4 separate regions of the Homo sapiens genome follow, and regions 2, 3 and 4 are each linked to region 1. The links come from fine-mapping of genetic effects on gene expression. A gene starts in region 1. Each other region holds a variant in brackets. All regions are shown on one strand. Distances are from middle to middle.

Evidence for each region. PIP is the estimated chance that this variant, and not a neighbour inherited with it, causes the effect.
Region 2: its variant is fine-mapped to the expression of CDS2 in whole blood (INTERVAL, PIP above 0.99). The same link has a PIP of 0.9 or more in monocytes after Pam3CSK4.
Region 3: its variant is fine-mapped to the expression of CDS2 in cerebellar hemisphere (GTEx, PIP above 0.99).
Region 4: its variant is fine-mapped to the expression of CDS2 in blood mononuclear cells (TOPMed, PIP 0.99).

What each region holds. Positions count from the first base shown.
Region 1 is chr20:5,124,984-5,130,130 of GRCh38, forward strand. CDS2 (CDP-diacylglycerol synthase 2) reads left to right here and starts at 2,025. Exons shown (of 13, transcript NM_003818.4): 1 at 2,025-2,166. The coding sequence starts at 2,110. It also overlaps a transcript of PCNA not described here. RefSeq lists a silencer at 1,514-2,433 and enhancers at 1,696-2,197, 2,774-2,863.
Region 2 is chr20:5,160,432-5,165,578 of GRCh38, forward strand. The region is part of intron 1 of CDS2 (CDP-diacylglycerol synthase 2); the gene reads left to right. Among named protein-coding and RNA genes, the nearest start is that of CDS2, 36 kb to the left of the region's middle. The variant G/A (reference allele first, on the strand shown) is at 2,133.
Region 3 is chr20:4,156,080-4,161,226 of GRCh38, forward strand. The region is part of intron 1 of SMOX (spermine oxidase); the gene reads left to right. It overlaps LOC124904861 (a long non-coding RNA gene), which reads right to left. Exons shown (of 2, transcript XR_007067504.1): 2 at 2,484-5,147. Among named protein-coding and RNA genes, the nearest start is that of SMOX, 9.8 kb to the left of the region's middle. RefSeq lists enhancers at 1-29, 1,558-2,058, 4,685-5,147. The variant G/T (reference allele first, on the strand shown) is at 2,094.
Region 4 is chr20:5,186,114-5,191,260 of GRCh38, forward strand. CDS2 (CDP-diacylglycerol synthase 2) reads left to right here. Exons shown (of 13, transcript NM_003818.4): 10 at 574-726; 11 at 2,954-3,073; 12 at 3,622-3,725; 13 at 3,989-5,147. The coding sequence ends at 4,121. Among named protein-coding and RNA genes, the nearest start is that of CDS2, 62 kb to the left of the region's middle. RefSeq lists a silencer at 4,437-4,506. The variant A/G (reference allele first, on the strand shown) is at 2,707.

The sequences.
Region 1 (5,147 bases):
CTTTCATACCTACGTGCCCCTGAAGGTGAAGTTCTAGACACTAACATCTTCACCTGTCTTAGAAGATCATCTTGCTCGAGTGCTGTGGCTCATGCCTGTAATCCCAGAACTTTAGGAGGCCTATGTGGGAGGATTGCTCGAGCCCAGGAGTTTAAGACCAGCCTAAGCAATAAAGTGAGACTTCATCGCTACACAAAAATTTAAAAGTTAGCTGGGTGTGGTGCTGCACACCTGTAGTCCAAGCTACTCGGGCATATACTCATATAGAAATCAGGAATATATAATGCTGTTTTCAGAATTCTCACTACCTGCCCCAAAACTCACAGCTCAGGTCAAAATTACCAATAGGAAATTTTAGCCAGGCATGGTAGCTCATGCCTGTAATCCCAGCACTTTGGGAGACCTAGGCGGGAGGATCTCTTGAACCCAGGAGTTCAAGACCAGTCTGGGCAACATAGTGAGACCCTGTCTCTAAAAAAAGGAGAAATAAATTAATTAAAATTTAAAAATTGAAAAGAAGAAAAATGTAAAATTATATTTTTTTAAAAAACGAAATTGCAATTCTTTTGTGTGCAAGTGTCTCATTGTGAGATTACAGTATGCTTAAGTTGGGGACGCAGTGTTATATGTGTTTTACATCACTTACAGGGCAGTGAATAGAAAGAACAGGAAACACCAAAGGCAATGCTGGAGCAACACAAGTATTAATAAATGCAGGCAGGCAGTATAGTATGGTGGTTAGAGTGTGGGCTGGTAACAAACCTGTTTGTGTTCTAATTCTTACTAGGCACTTTCTAGCTGGGAGACCTTGGCTAAGGTCCTTTTAAAAGTTTTAAATCCATCCAACAAGTACTTACAATGGATGTGTCAAAGACATAGAGGATGCACAGTAAACAAAGTAGACAGCACTTCTGTCCCAAAAAAGGTCTTTCCATAGTCCAGAAGACAAATTTGAAAAACTGAGGAAGGGCCAGGCTCGGTGGCTCACGCCTGTAATCCCAGCACTTTGGAAGGCGGAGGCGGACGGATCACCTGAGGTCAGGAGTTCGAGACCAGCCTGACCAATATGGTGAAACCCCGTCTCTACTAAAAATACAAAAGTTAGCCGGGCGTGGTGGCGCGCACCTTGGAATTGTTTGCGCCCGGGAGGCAGAGGTTGCAGTGAGTCGAGATCATGCCACTGCACTCCAGCCTGGGCGACAGAGCGAGACTCCGTCACAAAACAAACAAACAAACGAACAAACAAACAAACCACTGAGGAAGATCTTAACTGTAAAATTCAAATCATACCCACTTCCAAGCCATGTGTGGATTAAACGAGATAAGCCAACTAAAGCGATTACTCAGCTCAGTGCCTAGTATACAATTAGTGCTTAACAAGTACTAGCGACCGCTTGGCAAAGCAAAGCAGACTGAAGCGTGGGTTTCATTTCTCATCATGTGATAAGTGATAAAATGCTCTTAACCAGGTCGGCTCACCTGGCCTTTCCATTCGACCTAAATAACGTCTACTTACTTGCGTAAGGGAAGAGCTCTGGCCCAGGTCAGCAAGCATTTGTCAGGCTAGAGCCTCCGGGTGGCGCTTCTCGCCCTCAGTAACCGGTTACCTCCAGAACCAGGGCGCCAGCTCCGGCCATCCGCGGTTAAGCGGGAGCTCCCATTGGCTAATCGCACACTGAAACGCACGCCTTTTCCCGCCCCTGACGCTGCCGTCCAATGCGCGCCTCTCGACTCTGCTCCGCCCCGCCCCGCCCCCGTCGCCCTGCCTCCCTGGCGTATTTGCGCCATTGGTGGATATTCCGGACCGTGATGGTGGCGCTGCGCGTGCGCACTCGCTCCGAGCCCTGCTCCCGGGAGAGGGAGCTCTCGGGTCGGGGCTAGGGAAGGCTGACCCCGCTCGGCCCGGGTGAAAGGGCGGTGACGGCACTGGGTGGGGCCGAGCTCCAGGGCTGGCTGCTGGGCTGCTAAGGGAACTGTGAGCCGCTCAGAGCCGCGCGCCTCCCGGGCGGGGCGGGGCCGGCCGTGGGAGTCCGCGCGTGCCCGCGCCGAGCTGCCTGCTCCGGCGGCTTCGCTGCTAGCTCGCGGCGACGTCGGGCCGATTTTCCCAGGATGACAGAGCTGAGGCAGAGGGTGGCCCATGAGCCGGTTGCGCCACCCGAGGACAAGGTAGCGGCAGCGTCGGGGTGGGCGCGGCCGGGACAGCGGCGCATCCGGGAGGCCTGCGGGGGACGCGCGCAGAGGGGTCGTCTTGTTCTCTGACCCTTTGTCGCAGCCGACGGCGGCCCCGGGCCCGGGTAGCGCGAAGGGCCCTCGGGTGCCCGGCCTTCGCGGCGCGCGCGTCAGGGGTCGGCGGGTCGGGGTCCCGGCTCAGGGTCTGACTGAAGTGGCTCCCCCGGGGCGCAGGAAGGAGCTTCTCGGGAGTGGCGCACGGCCTCCTGCCTCGCTGGGCTGGCTGCGGGGACTCCCCTCTCCCCCAACTCCGTGAGGCCTTCCTGGAGGTGAAGATATGCAGAGCCTTCTTAGGGAGGCGGCTCCTCTGAGCGCAACTTAGGCTCTCCGTTCCCTTTTACAATGTTATTATTTTGGGGGGTGGGGGAATCAGGACAAGGCCATAGCATTTGCCTCCTGGGAGATGTAAATCCCTTCTTGGGCATGAAATCATCGGCTTTGAGCAAAGGGGTGTTACCCAGTGAGCCAGTCCGTCATCAGCAGGTGTTGGAGGGCGTCCTCCCGGTTGATGGGTTGTTTCCTGCACCGTGTGGGCTCTGGTGGGTAGGGGAGGAGAGTAGGAAGGAGGCCATCTTGGCGGGGACAGTGGCGGGGGTGACGGGTGGGGGAGTGGACTCCTTTGGGTGAAGTGAAAGATCTGTGTAGGGGAGTTAAGGAAGGTAGGGATTGGTTTTATTACTGTGGAGGTTGAATGGCAGTATAGGACTTTGTAGCAGTAGTTGTGCTTTCCGAGATAGCAGTGATCAGGAGCCCTGTGTTTGGGAAACTGATCAGACAGTGATGTGTAGAAGGGACTGAGGGAGCCTGGACCAGACTGAGGGAGCCTGGTTCACTCGGGATTGCCCATGAGTGACCTGTAGATGTTTTCTTTGGCCCACATATTGCCTTAAAAATCAGAAAGTTTCTCCTAACAATCTAAATTTCTTGCCTGTCTTAGATAATTGGAGGGTCCACCATCACTTTGTCACCTGCTCAATGGTTGGCTGGAGCTGAGGATCATCGGTTCCCACCAATCCCTGTTGCCTTACACCAGGCTCACGGCTTCCCCTAATGCAGCCTGTAACTTTTTGATGACTGGACGCAACGGACATTAGGGAGACACCCAGAAGGAAGAAAGCACAAGATTTGGTGACAGGATGTCAACAGAGCAGTTACACTAGGAGGAATGTTTTTGGTGAAAGATAATGAGATCATGGGTTTTTTTTAAACAACTTTCGTGTTATTGCAGTTGACAGTGGACTATCCAAAGAGAACTGTTCCTACCGATTTTTAGAACATATATTTTGGCCAGGCACAGTGCTGCTCGCCTGTAATCCTAGCTTCTAGGGAGGCTGAGGCAGGAGGATCGCTTGAGCCCAGGAGTTTGAGACCCTGTCTCAAAAAACAAAAACAAAAACATATTTTGGAGAACATTTAGGGCTGGGGCTGAGGATTTAGCAGTCGCTTGCAGAGACAAGATACTTTGAAGTCTCTAATTTTTCATTTGGCTATCCTGGTTCAGCCTGAAAGAATTCTGACTTACCTTGTACTACTAGTTGGTGAGTATGCAGATGTTTGGAGGCTCTGTAGCTCTGTTTAAGGGTGAGATCATGCTTGATGTTAGTGGGACTTTGTGGACCTAGAAGGTGTGAGGAGAGAGAGAAGAAAGAAGGCATGATAGCTGGTGGGCCATGTTTTTGAAAAGCTAACTATGTACAATAATTAGAATGTCAAAAAACAACCTTGGGATTATGAGATGCAACATAAAGATTCTACCCTCCTTCCCGGACTCGTTGGATCCATCCCCCAGAGATAAAGTGCGAGTTGAACCGTCTTACTTTCACATCCTGTACTTTAGACTGGGAGGACCTGAGGAGCTGTCCAGCTAGAGGTGCACTTATATCACTTATACAGTGACAGAATGCCTGGGGTCATGAGGTCCACTTGTGGCGTGTTGTTTCCTAAAAGACAGCTGCTATGCACTCTGTTAAAAGCCTGATGTTCATTACCGAGAACAAGACAATCAGTTCCTCACCCCATTATTCAGAACTTCTCAATTGTCACTGAATTGTCATGTATGGGATTTTATTATTATTATTTTTTTAGACGGAGTCTCTCTCTGTCGCCCAGGCTGGAGTGCAGTGGCACGATCTCAGCTCACTGCAACCTCTGCCTCCCAGGTTCAAGCTAGTCTCCTGCCTCAGCCTCCTGAGTAGCTGGGACTATAGGCATCCGCCACCACGCTCGGCTAATTTTTTTTTTTTTTTTTGAGAGGGAGTTTCGCTCTTTTGCCCAGGCTGGAGTGCAATGGCATGATGTTGGCTCATCGCAACCTCTACCTCCCAGGTTCAAGCAATTCTCCTGCCTCAGCCGCCCGAGTAGCTGGGACTGCAGGCGTGTGCTACCATGCCCGGCTAATGTTGTATTTTTAGTAGAGGCACGGCTTCTCAATGTTGGTCAGGCTGGCCTCAAACTCCCAACCTTAGGTGATCCTCCCGCCTCAGCTTCCCAAAGTGCTGGGATTATAGGCATGAGCCACTGTACCTGGCGTTTTTTTTTTTGTATTTTTAGTAGAGATGGGGTTTCACTGTATTGGCCAGGCTGGTCTTGAACTCCTGACTTCGTGATCTGCCCGCCTCGGTCTCCCAAAGTGCTGAGACTACAGACGTGAGCCACCACACCTGGCCATGTTTGGGATTTTTAATAAGGGAACATTTTAAAAACTGTGAAATCTATTATTTGTCTTTGAATGTATATAGTAAACTTTTGTTTGTTGGTTTGTTTTTTTGTTTTTTTTTGAGACAGAGTTTCGCTCTTGTTGCCCAGGCTGGAGTGCAATGGCACAATCTCGGCTCACTGCAACCTCCACCTCCCGTGTTCAAGCAATTCTCCTGCCTTAGCTTCCCCAGTACCTGGGATTACAGGTGCCTGCCATCACG
Region 2 (5,147 bases), 35 kb after region 1:
AGCAGTTTTCTTCCTGGTTGCAGGTTGGGGTGGATACAGCTGTTAGACTGTCTGCATTGTCCAGTATAGTAGCCACTAGCCACATGTGGCCAATTAAACCTTTTCTTACTGTGGCTAAATATTATATATATCATAAAATTGATAATTTTAACCATTTTCAAGTGTATGGTTCTATGGCATTGAGTACGTTAACATTGTTTTGCAACTGTCACCAGAACAAACATTCCAGAATATTTTCATCTTCCCCAAATGAAACTCTGTACCCATTAAACAACTCTCCCCTCTCACTCCCCCAGCCCCTGACAACCACCATTCTATTTTCTGTCTCTACGAATTTGACTACTCTAGGTACCTCATGTAAGTGGAATCATATATTTGTCCTTTTGTGTGTGGCTTATTTCACTTAGCACAATGTCCTCAAGGTTCATCCATGTGGTAGCATGTGTGAGAATTTCCTTCCTTTTTAAGGCTGAATAATATGCCACTGTATATGTATACTACATTTTGTTCATTCCTTTGTTGATAGATACTTGGATTGCTTCTACTTTTTTGTTTATTGTGAATAAGGCTGCTATGAACATGGGTGTACAAATATCTCTTTGAGTCCCTGCCCTCAGTTCTTTTGGGTATATACCCAGAAGTGGAATTGCTGAGTCATGTGGTAATTCTATATTTGATTTTTTGAGGAACTGCCAGGCTGTTTACTATAGCAGCTGCATTATTTTACATTCTGACCAACAGTGCACAAGGGTTTCAGTTTTTTCACATCTTCTCCAGTACTTGTTATTTTGGTTTTTCTTTTTTCTTTTTTGAAAATAGCCACTCTAGTGGATGTGAAGTGTGTGGCAGTTTAAATTTAATTAAAAATAAATACATAAATTCACTTCCTTAGTCTCGCTAGCCACATTTTAATTGTTCAATAAGCCACACACAGCTGTGGCTCTCATATTGGACAGTATAGAGAGAACATTTCCATTATTGCAGAAAGTTCTATACTGACAAAACCTGGAGGTAGCAGTGGACCTGAAAGGGATTGATCCAAGCCCAGCAGAGTCCCAAGGATTCAATCAATTGATAACTGACACATACATTGAGAGGCAATCCATTGATAACTGACACATACTTTGTGTAAGTAGTATAATCCAGTATAGACATAGTTTTATATTCTGCCTTTTTCATGTTGCTGCACGGTGTTTATAGTAGTCTTGTTAATAGCTGCACAGAAAGTTGATTTACCGTAATTTACCTAATAATTTTTCCTTGTTAGGGACATAAAACCAGTTTCTCCTTTTCAGTACTGCAGTAGAGTATGCTCATTTCCCAGTTGTCTCCAGGCCTAGCCCTTCTGGTTTCTTCATCTGTTCATTTTATCGTCTTGCTCTTTTTTGTCTCCTTACTGTTTTAACCACTCTATTGGACGTACTTGGCCTCTAAGTAAAGTTTGACTAACGCTAACTAGAACCAGACCATGCCTGTGTTAATATAGCCTAAAATGCCATTAGCTATTTTTGCTGTTTGAACTGCTTGTACCATCTTGGGTCAAGTGCCTACTCCAAAACAGTCAAGGTGCACATTGCCTTAGGCTGGGGTAAATGCCTGTTCGTGAACCTATCACTGTGGCAGAGGGGCAGAATTAAAAATAAGTAGACTGTACAAGCTGCTGTATACCATGAAATAGTTTATGGATTTTTAGGAGGGAACCAACTGCAGTGTCCAGTACCTGGGGGAAGATAGGGAGATAAGAATTAAGGGTCGAACATCCCAAAATCAAAAATTTGAAATTTTCAAAATCTGAAACTTTTTGAGTGCCAATGTGATGCTCAAAGGAAATGCTCATTGGAGCATTTTGAATTTAGGATTTTCTGATTAGGGATGCTCAGCCAGTAAGTATAATGCAAATATTCCAAATTCTGAAAAGAACTCTGAAATGCAAAACACTTCCGGTCTCAAGCATTTTGGTTAAGGGGTATTCAATCGCTACCTCTCAGGTTTCTGGCTTATGCAGGGTATATAGACTCGCATGCTGTCAACTGATTGACTAGGCAAGACTTCAGGATCAGTAGTTTTACGGACAATGTCAAAAGTGTTCTGTTTAGATGTGTTACTTTTGAGATGCCTGTAAGAACTTTCTC[G/A]TGGAGATGTCAGTAAGTGGTTGGAAATATGAATCTGAAGCTTGGGGGAGAAGTTGGGGTTGGAGATACAAATGTTGGGGTCATTGGCATGGAATTGGTAATTAAAGCCAAGGGGCTGGATGATGATACCTAGGGAGAGAGTGTGGTAGGTCCAGAACTGAGCCCAGGGCCCATTCAACATTTTGAAGTCAGGTAGACTTCAAAGTCACAGGAGACTGAGAAAGAGCAGCCAGTCAGGTAGAGTGAGAACCTGATAAGTATGGTATGGAGGTAGCTGAGAGGAGAATGTTTCAAGGAGGAAATGGTCAACTAGATCTGACATTGCCAAGATATATGATAAGATGAAGGCAGGGGAATCTGTCTGATTTGGCAGCATGGAGGTTGTTTTATTTACTTATGTTTGAAGATGCACTTTAGTCTCCAGAGCCTAGGGAGATCATACTGAGGCCACATTGACTTTTCTTTGCTGGGGTAATGGATATTTGAAAGTAATTTGATGGCCAGGTACTGTGGCTCATGCTTATTCTCCCAGCACTTTGGGAGGCCAAAGCGTGAGGATCACTTGAGGCCAGAAGTTCGAGACCAGCCTGGGCAATGTAGAGAGGCTCTTTCCTTTTAATTACTGGTTTTCAAAAAAAGATTTGGTGTTTCAGCACCCTTCAGAGGTGGCCAAAGTAGTTTTTTTTGTTTCGTTTTTATTTTTATTTATTTTTTTGAGACAGAGTTTTGCTCTTGTTGCCCAGGCTGAAGTGCAATGGCTCCATCTCAGCTCACCATAACCTCCACCTCCCGGATTCAATCGATTCTCCTGCCTCAGCCTCCTGAGTATCTGGGAGTACAGGCATGGGCCACCACTCCCTGCTAATTTTGTGTTTTTAGTAGAGACAGGGTTTCTCCCTGTTGGTCAGGCTGGTCTCGAACTCCCAACCTCAGGTGATCCACCCGCCTCGGCCTCCCAAAGTGCTAGGATTATAGGCGTGAGCCACTGCGCCTGGCCAGTAGTTTCTTACAGTTATCATTATGAACTCATAAATTTTCATATACTTGTGTTTAAATCACTTTTTGTTTATTATTTTAATGCTCAAATTGTCCTATCGTTGGCCATTAGGAATGTTTCTTCAAAGACTTTCTCATTTTCAATTTAATTTTTTCCCCAGGTATCCTTAGTGATTTATCAAAAAGAGAAAGAAACTATTTAGCATTGTGGCTTTCATAATTTCTTTCTTTCTTTTTTTTTTTTTTTTTGAAGCAGAGTCTAGCTCTGTCGCCCAGGCTGGAAAGCAGTGGTGCAAACTCGGCTCACTGCAGCCTCTACCTCCCAGGTTCAAGCAGTTCTCTTGCCTCAGCCTCCCAAGTAGCTGGGATTACAGGTGCCCACCACCACGCCTGGATAATTTTTGTGTTTTTAGTAGAGACGGAGTTTCACCATGTCGGCCAGGCTGGTCTTGAACTCCTGACCTCAGGTGATTGCCCACCTTGGCCTCCTGAAGTGCTGGGATTAGAGGCACGAGCCACCGCACCCACCCCATAATTTCTTCTATAACTAATATGACACATTTGGGATTGAGAACACTGTTAATTCCATGTTCTTCAAGGGAGAAACATACTAGTTTCTCCCTTGAATAGTTACAGTCTATTTGATTGGTACTTGATTCCATGATGGTTGGTTATAAACCAGGAATACTACAAAAGTGACAATATAATGTTCCAATATGGTAAACAGCCCCAGGGTGCTTGTCTGCCCACAGGAGTAGGGGAGGTTGGGGCATGAGACACTGGGGACATTTGCTCTCATGTCTACTTATTTTGTCTAGGAATCTTTGTAGAAAACACTATTGTGAGGTGAGTGACAGTGAAGCAGGTACCAGATGGCGATTTATGATTTAGGGGCTCGTCGCATGTGGAGCCCAGCAGCTGTCCTGGTTCTACTTCCTGACAGAGGTCTGGGGAGCACACTTGAGCCCAGTTTTGAGATTGCGAATATATTTTTCTTCTCCATCTTACTAGATCTTTTGGCAGTATTAGACATACTCCCTCCTTGGGAGAGCTTTATCTTAATAAACTGAAAAAAAAAAAAAATTCCTTCCTTCCCCAGTAGCGCTGAAAACTCATTTTCCCTTAAATACTAAATAGAGATGCCCGACTAAGGAACTGATAATAGAAGGACCCGTTGGACTCCAGTGGGGCTTCTGATTTTTGGTGTCTTTCCCCTAACCCTGGAAGACAATAGGAAAACAAGTGATGTCATCGGAACAGAGCCGTTGGCAGAGCCTCCTGGGGACCTGAGTGGTTTTCTTGTCTCTGATAGTCTCTGTTCTGAATTAAGTAATGGCTTGTGATGGAGGTTGGTACTTCCTGCAGCTATTTCATATTTATAGTCATATGCTTGCTGTTAGTAAACAGATGCATCTACTCCAGAAGGAGGCTTCAATGGGCAAGGTGGGAGAGAGTGTTGGGAGAAAGGATTCCTGGTCATTCCTTGTCACAAAAATTATGGGTTTAATGTATGAGACTGGCAGTCATGCAGAGGTTGGGACTCAGTACAACTGTACGTATTTGAGTTAGAAAGCCTTGCATTCCTAGAAGCTGGATTTCAGACAGGATTTCCTCATCCTTTCTGAGACATACAGATTCTGTACTTTTTTTGGAAACCCCCGTATTGCTTAGGATACATTTGGCCACAAATGTCTAAGAAGAAGGGGAGATAAACAGTGGGACAGCTGGCTGCAGCCCTAAAATGCCTCCTCTAGTGCTACTGAGTGCAAAAATGAATTGTCAGCCTACGCGACATGTAGCCCAGCTACACCTGCCACTTCAGCAAACCCTGGATTCTCTCAGCATCATTGGCTCTGGCTGCCTCTGCAGATGTGGTTCTAGGTGCCAGGCCAGGTGCTGGGGGTACAGTGGTGAGGAAGTCAACATGGCTCCCCCACAGAGATGATGGTCTCGAGGCGGAGACTATGCGGTGTGGGAAGCCGTCTTTTTTTGTTTTTTTGTTTTTTTGAGACAGGGTCT
Region 3 (5,147 bases), 970 kb before region 1:
AATAAGGGTAGAAACTGGCAAATTCACTCCACTACCCTACGGGAGATTCAGAATACATTTAAGAGAATTAAAGGTCCTGACAAGTCCTGTAGAAAAGAAACTGTTTAGTGTTTCCCAGCCTGATCTGACCGTGGAAATCTTTTTTTTAAATGACTGCCAATAATGTCCCACCCACCAGGAAAACACCTGCTGGGAAAAGCTGATGTGGAAAGATGCTGCTCACTGGAAGGCCACGAACATGGTAGCACAGGTGGACTTCCTGGTAGAGGTAGACTTGGTGGGATGGGCACATTTGGACAATCAGTAGAAGAAGAGGGCACTGCAGAGAGAGAGATGCCAGGCTCCCCTCTGAGGCCTCAGTTTCTTCATCTGTAAATCTTTGCCCCCCATGTCTGCCTCCCCACCTTCCTTTGGGTGTAGCAACTGCTACCCCCCTGCCAGTGCCTGGTGGGACCTCAACTGACCAGGGCCCTCAGATGTGCCCATCCCACCTCTACCAGGAAGCTCCCTGCCATCCTTCCTTTTCTCCCTGGTATTTCTGGGCCGAGAGCCAGCCCTGGGTTCTTGTGGCAATGGCTCTGCCTCACTGGGTGAATGAGGAAGGATCTGGAAGGACCTGTCTGGTGCCTGGGATCCCCAGGTAGCTGGGCCTGGGTCTTCTGGATTCTTTTTCTTTTTTTTGAGATGGAGCCTCACTCTGTCACGCAGGCTGGAGTGCAGTGGCGCAATCTCAGCTCATTGCAACCTCCACCTCCTGGGTTCAAGCAATTCTCTTGCCTCAGCCTCCCGAGTAGCTGGGATTACAGGCGCTCACCACCACGCCCTGCTAATTTTTGTGTTTTTAGTAGAGGTGGGGTTTCACCGTGTTGCCCAGGCTGGTCTGGAACTCCTGGCCTCAGGTGATCTGCTCACCTTGGCCTCCCAAAGTGCTAGGATTACAGATGTGAGCCGCTGTGCCCGGCCATCTTCTGGATTCTGAGAGGGCCTTTTCCTTATACCTCCCGGGCATTTCCTCGCTTTGCAAGTTCTCCCCAGCCTTTCATCTCAGAGGTTAACACAGCAGGGTTGTGAACTCTGGACAATAAGCTAAGCCTCTCTGTGCCTCCGTTCCCTCATTTGTACCATGAGGGTAATATTACCTCCCTCCTAGGGTGGCTGGGTTGTTGTGACACTCTAATACCGGTTGGCTGCTCTTACTACTGGATTTGACATGGCTGGAGGAGGGACCCTGGGGAGGGCCCTGTCATCGTGGACATGAGGGAAGAAAGCAAGAGCCAGCAGAAAGCGGCACAAGGCTTAGGTTGGGGTCCTGGTTAGACCAGAGTAGCCTGCAGAGGAGAAGAAAGAGGGTGTGGGTAGCTAGCAGGACTGGCTTCCTGGAGGAATGGCCAGTTAGGTGGGGAGATCTGGACAGAATGAGAAGTCACAGGTTTGAGTCTGAGAGTCAGAGGATCCTGGTGGGTGTGTGTAGGGGACAAGTGGCCTGCGGGCAGGGAGGAGGCATCAGGGACTACCTTCGTTCACTGGGCTGTGGCAGCCCACAGAAGGTTTTGAGCAGGGCAGTGATGTGATCAGAGCAGTGCATTAGTGAGACATGAGGCAGGGTGTGAGTGATGGTGGGCTGTGGGAGGGGGCGGTGCTGTGCCCCTTCATGGACATGAAGCTGGGGGAGGGGCCAAGTTGCGGACGTGACCCTCATTCTCAGACTCTCAGGGCAGTCAGTGAGGCTACCCTGCCTCGCCTCTGCCACACCTCCTTTCCTCTGTGGTGTGAGGCTCTTTGTTCAGCAGCTCAGGTGGGGGAGATGGGCTGTGGTATTTTTTATTTTTTATTTTTTTTGAGTTGGAGTCTCGCTCTGTCGCCCAGGCTGGAGTGCAGCGGCGCGATCTCGGCTCACTGCAACCTCCGCCTCCCGGGTTCACGCCATTCTCCTGCCTCAGCCTCCCGAGTAGCTGGGACTACAGGCGCCCGCCACCACGCCCGGCTAATTTTTTGTATTTTTAGTAGAGATGGTGTTTCACCTTGTTAGCCAGGATGGTCTCGATCTCCTGACCTCGTGATCCGCCCGCCTTGGCCTCCCAAAGTGCTGGGAT[G/T]ACAGGTGTGAGCCACAGCGCCGGTCGGGGTGTGGTATTTTAAATACCCAGGAGGAGCTACGGTGGTGCGTGGGGCAACATTGGCCCTCCGACCTGACCCGAAGGCCCTGGTGGGGCATGCTCAGTGGATTTTCCTACCCAGCCCTAGCTCCCCTCTCTTGTCCTCCTTTGCCCCTTTGTCTTTCTTCCTCAAGCATGTAGGAGCCCAGTGCTCTCTAAATCTGGGGCTGGGAGGTTGGAGGATGAGGAAAAGCATCTGGATTCAGGTGGAGCATGGTGGCCTAGCTGGGGGCATTGCAGCACCCCTTAGTCCAGATTCCCTTCTTCTCCACCTGCTTCTTGAGGGACGGCATTAAGGAAGGTGTGACTTAAAGTCAGAAGAACAAGAACTTGGAAGTGAGTTGCAATTTATTAGAAAACAGAACAAAGAATCTAGCCACCCCTGCCAACTCTGTGCTAGGCCCTGGCAGACACATGGGTCCTGTCTTCCCCATGCAGCCCCGGGGGCCTGAGTGAGGCATGATGGGTCTCACTCAGTTTCTGGGACATCTGTCTCGATGCCCTTTCGTCAACCCCATGGCTCTCTCAGAGCCTGTCCTCATACCTTCAACTGCTCCCCACCCATAACCAGATCTCCGGGACAGCCCAGCTCAGCCAGCGCACCTCTGATCCTGGCGGGTGGTGGTGATACTCCTTGCAGGCTGAGTTGGCTAGATTTTAGGATGACTCAAGCAGGAGACACCCAGCACCACCAAGGGGCATATATTCTTAGGAAATATTTTTAAATGATGCCTTTAAATGTTAAACACACAGGGACCTTTTACTCTCTCTTATTTTGGAAAATTAAAAAAAAAAAATCATACACAATGCAAAACCTTGAGAGTTAATCTGAAAAGGTTTGGAGTTTAAAAAGTAACTCAAGGAAAGATAATGAACTTGACTTCTTCATTAGATTTTTTTTTGTTTTTGAGACAGAGTTTCACTCTTGGAGTGCAATGGCGCGATCTTGGCTCACTGCAACCTCTGCCCCCTGGGTTCAAGCGATTCTCCTGCCTTAGCCTCCCAAGTAGCTAGGATTACAGGTGCCTGCCACCACGCCCGGCTAATTTTGGTATTTTTAGTGGAGACGGGGTTTCACTATGTTGGCCAGGCTGGTCTCAAACTCCTGACTTCAAGTGATCCGCCCACTTCGACCTCCCAAAGTGCTGAGATTACAGGTGTGAGCCACTGCGCCCAGCTGCTTCTTCATTAGATTTTAAAAAGAGCAAGGCCTGAGGCTTAATATATTACTAAGTAAAATTTAGAGGCAGGCTGATAGCAGGCTGTGGAACCTCTCTGAATCTCAGTTGCCTCCTCTGTACTATGGGGGTATTGATGTGAGGATTGAGGTATTCCACACAAAATGCTTGGCACTGCACTCTGTATCTCAGGTGTATTCAGCTAAAAATAGAGTGATAACAATGATGATAGGATTTTAAGAACAGACCTTTCTTGATGCTTCAAAAGCTAGTGAGTTATTCTCTCTTTGAACTCCACAAAAGGGCCTAAAGAATATGTTTATGTCCAAACTCAGCGTCTCCACTTCATAGGGGTCTTATGGATGAAATCATGGGCGCATGGCCCCTGTGTGCATTCTGAAATGAACCCCAGTGGCTTTTGAGACCTGGTTCCAGCCCTCGCGTGGGTGGGGGACTGTGCTTCATGGTTGAATTCTATGGAAAGTGCTTTATTGGTTAATCCTGTGGTCTTCTTAGGAGAGCACAGTTAATGTACCCTGAAGTCACCAGGAGGGGAAGGTCTCGGGCCAGTGATCGAGGACCGTCTAGAGGCAGTTATGAGTTACTTGCTTTTTGAATTTTCTTTTGTGCTGGCCAATGCAATTAGAACTTGTCCCTGGCCCTATTTATGGAGGAGGAGATCGAGGGTGAAGGACTGAGGCCTGGCTAGTTTAGTGCCTGGCAAGCCTAATCCAGCTGCATGGGGCAGGGAGACCAGGGTGACCTGCAGGGACCCCACTAAGCGCCCAGGCCAGAAAGCAGGTAGCTTCCCGGTGGCAGCCCCAGGCTTTGGCAGTGAAGCTGGAGTGAACCATCAGGCCTTGAGATGACTCCTGCCAGCCCCAAGTGCCTGGCACAGTGTGTGCATATCAGTATGTGGGGAGGAGTAAGATGGGAGAATCGTTGAGCCAGGGCAGTCCTCGGGCCTGCCGCACCCCTGGGGAGGCTGAGTAGGGGGGCCTGAGGTCGGAGCAGGGATTGAGCAGTGTTGCCCTGCCCTGCCCCTCACTCCATCCAGGTGGCGTCTGTCATGCCTCTGAACCTCTTGGGGCCTGTTTCCTCATCTGTAAAATGGGCAGCAGAGAGTTTATGAGTATTAAAGGATGCAGTGAATGGAAAGTGCCCAGCAAAGGGCCTGGCACAGGAGGGGCAAAATAGAGGTTTGCTGTGAGGTTCATCTGGTGACTCGATTTTTCTTTGGATATTTTCCTTTTTTCGTTTTGTGATCATGCATGCCACCTTGGCTCTATGATAAATTACGTTGTGTGGACACCATAAGAGAGGTATTTGTGCTGGAAAAGGGTTTACAGTGGAGGAAGGCCCGTCTCCACCTTCAGGGAGGAAGGCTGCCTGGATCCAGCACGGCTCAGACAGCTCTGACACTGGGGCTGTCGTGTCTCTTTGTGGGCAGAAAGCACAGGTCCCAGGCTGGGCAGAGTGGGACCCTGTGGCTCAGGAGGCAGGATGGGCTTGCCGGAGACCCCACCCCCTCCCCGGGGCTGGAGCTGAAGCACAGTTGGGCTTTGTGCAGAGTCACGAGGGGCCGCTGAGGGGGAACTGCGCCCGGCTGAGCTCACAGGCCTCAGTTCTTGTAAGTGGTTTTGAAAGAGTCAGCGGAAAGTGCTGACTGAGCTGTTCTCCTTCACCCCAGAATTGTGAGGCTGCGGCTCCTGGCAGGGATAGGGGAGAAGCCCCACCGGGAAGCCACCCCCTCAGCTGCCAGCTCACACCTCCCAGGTGTCAAGTGCCCAGGCTGCAGAATGGGTGGATCTCTGTG
Region 4 (5,147 bases), 61 kb after region 1:
CCCAAGGGAAGATGAGATACACAGCTTTTCTCCTATGTGTGCCTTGCCCAGAGGTGGGTGATTTTCCTGCCCTTTCCAGAGCACCATTCTCTGCTTCTGACCCTTGGGCCAGTCCTCCTTCTTCAGCACTGTCTGGCTGCCCTTCAGTGCTCACCGCCCAGCTTTGTTGCTTTCCAGCCTTGTTCCTCCTGAGATCTGCCTCTCACTGTGCCCCTTCCCCATGGCCTCTCTCCAGTTATCACTGACTTCAGAGATCTTGAGGAAAGTGGTCCTAGCTCCCCAAATGGGGAGAGTCTTCTTGTAGTTCTTTGCCCCAGTCCCTTCAGGTTTTCCCGGATTCTTTCGGGGCCTGGGTGTTTGGGTTCCTGTATGTAACCTTGGTGGGTCATGAGCCTCTTTTTTTTTTTTTAATTGAGGTAAAATATGTATGGTAAAACATGAACCTCTGAGCACATAGCTCGCAGTTAGCAGGGTACTAGGCACCCTCAGGAACATGGCCAAACCAGGTGCCTGTGTCTGGGCTGGATGGTTGGAACTTACTTCCTTGCCGGTCTCTCTGTTATTCCTCCTCAGCTGTCCTATGTGATGTCCGGGTACAGATGCTTTGTCTGCCCTGTGGAGTACAACAATGACACCAACAGCTTCACTGTGGACTGTGAGCCCTCGGACCTGTTTCGCCTGCAGGAGTACAACATTCCTGGGGTGATCCAGTCAGTCATTGGCTGGGTATGTGCCACTCACAGGGGGTGAGCGGCCTCCATGGACAGTGGCTACAAAGAGAGATCCCCCTCCATCACCTGCCCTCTGAAAAAAGCTAGCTTCCTCCTTCCCAAAGCTGTAAGCCCCAGGATGAAGGAGAATTGCTCACGCCAGGTCAGGGTATGGGCAGGACAGCTTTCCCCCAACATCAGATTGTTTAGACCAGTGGTTTTCAAAGTGTGTTCTGTGGATCCCTGGAGGGCCCTGGGATCCTTTTAGTTGCGGGGGTAGGGTGGGGGGGTCTGTGAGGTCACAACTGTTTCATAATTAGACTATGACATTATTTTCCTTTTTCAATGTGTTGACATTTGCTGTGATACGGCGCAAAAGCAGCAGTGGTTAAAACTGCGTTAAGGCAGTGGGTTCCTCATGCCACACACTCACAGTACAAACAGGCCAGTTCTAATGAATGTCTATGAAATAGTAAAGTTACTAATTTTGTTAAATCTTGACCTTTGTACACACACCTTTTTAACACTCTCTACTGAAATGGAAAGTATGTGTAAAACATTTCTGCTAAGTACTGTAGTACAGTGCTTGCCTAAAGGGAAAGCATGTGTGCAGTTGTTTGAGTTGTGAGCTAAATTAGCTGCTTTTTTTTTAGAAAAGAAAGTAAATTTTACTTGGAAAGAACCAACAAATTATAATTTTTCAGACTTGGGTATTTGGCAGACATTTTTCTTGAAAAGGATGAAGTGAGCCTATCACTTTAAAGAAAACAACTGAGGCTAGGCACAGTGGCTCACACCTGAAATCCCAGCACTTTGGAAGGCCGAGGCAGGCAGATCTCTTGAGGTCAGGAGTTCCAGACCAGCCTGGGTAACATGGCGAAACCCCGTCTTTACTAAAAATACAAAAAAATATAGCTGGGGATGGTGGCGTGTGCCTGTAATCCCAGCTACCAGCTACTCAGGAGGTTGAGTTGCTTGAACCCAGGAGGCGGAGGATGCAGTGAGCCAAGATCGCACCACTGCACTCCAGCCTGGGTGACAGAGTGAGACTGTCTCAAAAAAAAAAAAAAAAAGAAAAGAAAAATGACTGACAGTAATTGTTACCAAGGATAAAATTTGGCTTTCAAATGAAAATTAGAATTTTGGAAAGCTTAACCTGCCACTGTGAACTTGACAGCTTCCTAATACTTAAAAGCCTTTTCTGATGAGGTCTGTGATGATTCTTAACGTACGTGTGTGTGTGTGTGTGTGTGTGTGTTGATCACATGAGAAAAAACACAAACATATTTGACACGGTATAATGAAATGTGTCTACATTTGGAAGATTTACATAACTCAGTGAACCATTATTTTCTAAATGGCTGATGCATGGTGTTATATAGTCATGCATGGGTAAAAGATCCGTTCAAGTATAAGATAGACCAATGGATTTTAATGTAAGAGAGAACAAAGTCCATTGATAGAATTCTAGATTCCATATCACACCTAATATTCAAGAAATGACTACTTGTCAAGCTCTGGTGTAGTGTCAGAGAATACCCAAAACCATCTGAGGCTACGACTAAAATACTCTTTTCAACTATGTATCTGCGTACGGCTGGATTTTCTTTATATACTTCCACCAAAACAGCATGTTGCAACAGATTGAATGCAGAATATTTTAATGTTTTCCATTAACTTAGATATTAGAAATTTACAAAATGGGAAAAATTCACTCCTCTTATTGATTTAAAACCTACATGTATATAATTAGTTTCATAAAGAGTTACGAGGTTGGATGTCTTGGTCTGTCTAGTGTTGATAGAACACTTGGGGCTGGGTAATTTACAAAGAAAAGAGGTTTACTTAGCTTCTTTCTGCAGGCTGAGAAGTGTGAGAAGTGTGGCATTGGCTGCTGCCTGGCTTCTGGTGAGGGCTTTTTATGCTGCATTGTAACATGGCGGAGAAGGTCAAAGGTGGAAGCAGACACATGCAAAGAGGCAAAACCAGGGGCTTC[A/G]TCACTTCATAACAACCCATTCCCTCGGGATGCCAGTGCTAATCTAGTCTCTTGACAGAACTCACTACTAGGAGAAAGGCACCAAGCCATTCATGAGGGATTTGCCCCTGTGACCCAAACACCTCCCACTAGGCATCACCTCCCAGTGAGGCCACAATGAGGATCAAATTTCAACATGAGTTGACAACTCAAACCGTAACACTGGGCATGTATGCACCTAAACTTTTACTTCATTTACTCTTCTCAGAAAACGGTCCGGATGTACCCCTTCCAGATTCACAGCATCGCTCTCTCCACCTTTGCCTCGCTCATTGGCCCCTTTGGAGGATTCTTCGCAAGTGGATTCAAACGAGCCTTTAAAATCAAAGTAGGAAAACCGTCTTACGTTCCTCTCATCTCACTCCCTCACCCATCTTCTGCCTTTCTCCCCCTTCCCTGCCCCCTCCAAAATACTAGGCTGTACACCCTGGCATTTAATGTGTGATCTTGACCCATGCACTGAATTTAGGTGAGTTAATTAATAACAATATTTTCAGGAAAATGCAATCGTTGTTTTTCAGTTTATTTGTTAATATATCTTTCTTCAAAAGAACATTTTGGGCCAGGCAGTGGCTCATGTCTGTAACCCCAGCACTTTAAGAGGCCAAGGCGGGAGGATCACTTGAGGCTAGGAGTTAGAAAGTAGCCTGAGCAACATAGCAAGACTCCTGTCTTTATTAAGTAAATGAAATAAGAACATTTTGTAATGCAATAAAATTGTGTCCTAATATAGCCTCACCATTAGATTTCATACTTCTCACCTTCTATTGCCCTCAGCTACTCAGCACAGAAGCCTGACATTGGGGTGGGACCATTAGGCTGGGATTGGTTAGTGGCTGAGCCCAAGTTCACCCATCCTTCCCCTGCCTCTAACAGGACTTTGCCAATACCATTCCTGGCCATGGAGGCATCATGGATCGCTTTGACTGCCAGTATCTGATGGCCACCTTTGTCAATGTATACATCGCCAGTTTTATCAGGTATAGTACCTTTCCATCTGAACCAAGTTGGTGGATTTTTAAGTACGGTGCAATTCTAGAATTTTAGCGGCATCTAAGTTCCAGTGAAAAGCATCCCAAATAATGCAGTTTTCAGTTGTTTCTGCTTACAGATTTTCTGAGGCCTCCTGTCATCTGTTAATAGATAACTCTCTGATCCAGAGATCAGAGCAGCCACTCAGATAATCAGGCCCTGGAAGCTTCCGGGCCCTAGCTCAGTGCTGTTTCTTCACATTCTGTTCCAGAGGCCCTAACCCAAGCAAACTGATTCAGCAGTTCCTGACTTTACGGCCAGATCAGCAGCTCCACATCTTCAACACGCTGCGGTCTCATCTGATCGACAAAGGGATGCTGACATCCACCACAGAGGACGAGTAGGGGCCACCCAGGGCCAGGAGAACAGGAACAGAACTGAGCAGGGGCAGGTCTCCAAGGCAAGCCCAGCTGGTGTGACTTAGACAATGACGAGGCTTCAACTCACTGTCTTTTTTTTTTTTTTTTGGAGGGTATTTTTTATTTGTGGGTTCAAAAAATCTGTATATACAGTCTATGTGTTTAGAATTTGTGTTGTAAGTAAACTACAGCTTTGAGTTGGAAAGAAGTCACGGGTTGTAAAACCATTTGGATTTTTTTAAAACAAAAGTATTAATAATCTGGAAGACAGTGTTGCCCAGGTCAGGAGTGTTTTCTTGGTGGTTCCAGCCCCCATCAATTGAACTGTTTCTGGGCTCAGTCAGACACAGACATTCATCTGTGTCTGACCAAATCAGGGGACTTCCCCACCTGTGGTGGGAGGCACAGCTTAGATGTTTTGTACACCTGGTCTTTTCTAGAAATCCCTGCTTGGAGCTGCAGAAGGGTTGCCTTCTGTAGGTCGGAGGAATGGAGGCTTACTAACCAGGTAAGCCTTCTATGCATCCACACCAAAATCCTGCAGAATGTAAGTAAGCTCTGCTTTATAAGATGGGTTCACCTTCATCGCAGACTGAAAGTTTCAGTTTTTATTTTTTTCAGAAAGCACGAAAAATTATTTATAATAGTCTGGAGAAAAAACACACTGTAATATTTCAAGTGTATGCAGTAGAATGTACTGTAACTGAGCCCTTTCCCACATGTCTAGGCTCCAATGTCTCCTGTAGGTCCACCTAACTGTGTGTTTTCAGGGACAATGCCATCCATGTTTGTGCTGTAGACTTGCTGCTGCTGAATCCTTTCTGGGGACTTTCTCATCGGGCAGGGAGCAGAGGGCTTCTCGTTCATGCACCCTTTGCCTGAACACCCATGTAGCTGCTGTGTTGTGTATATATTACTCTTAAGAGGAGTGTGTGTGTCTGTGTTTGTTTTAAAAGTCACTTATTTCTTACAGTGATTTCAATTGCACCATGACTTCTTCACTAAAACCAC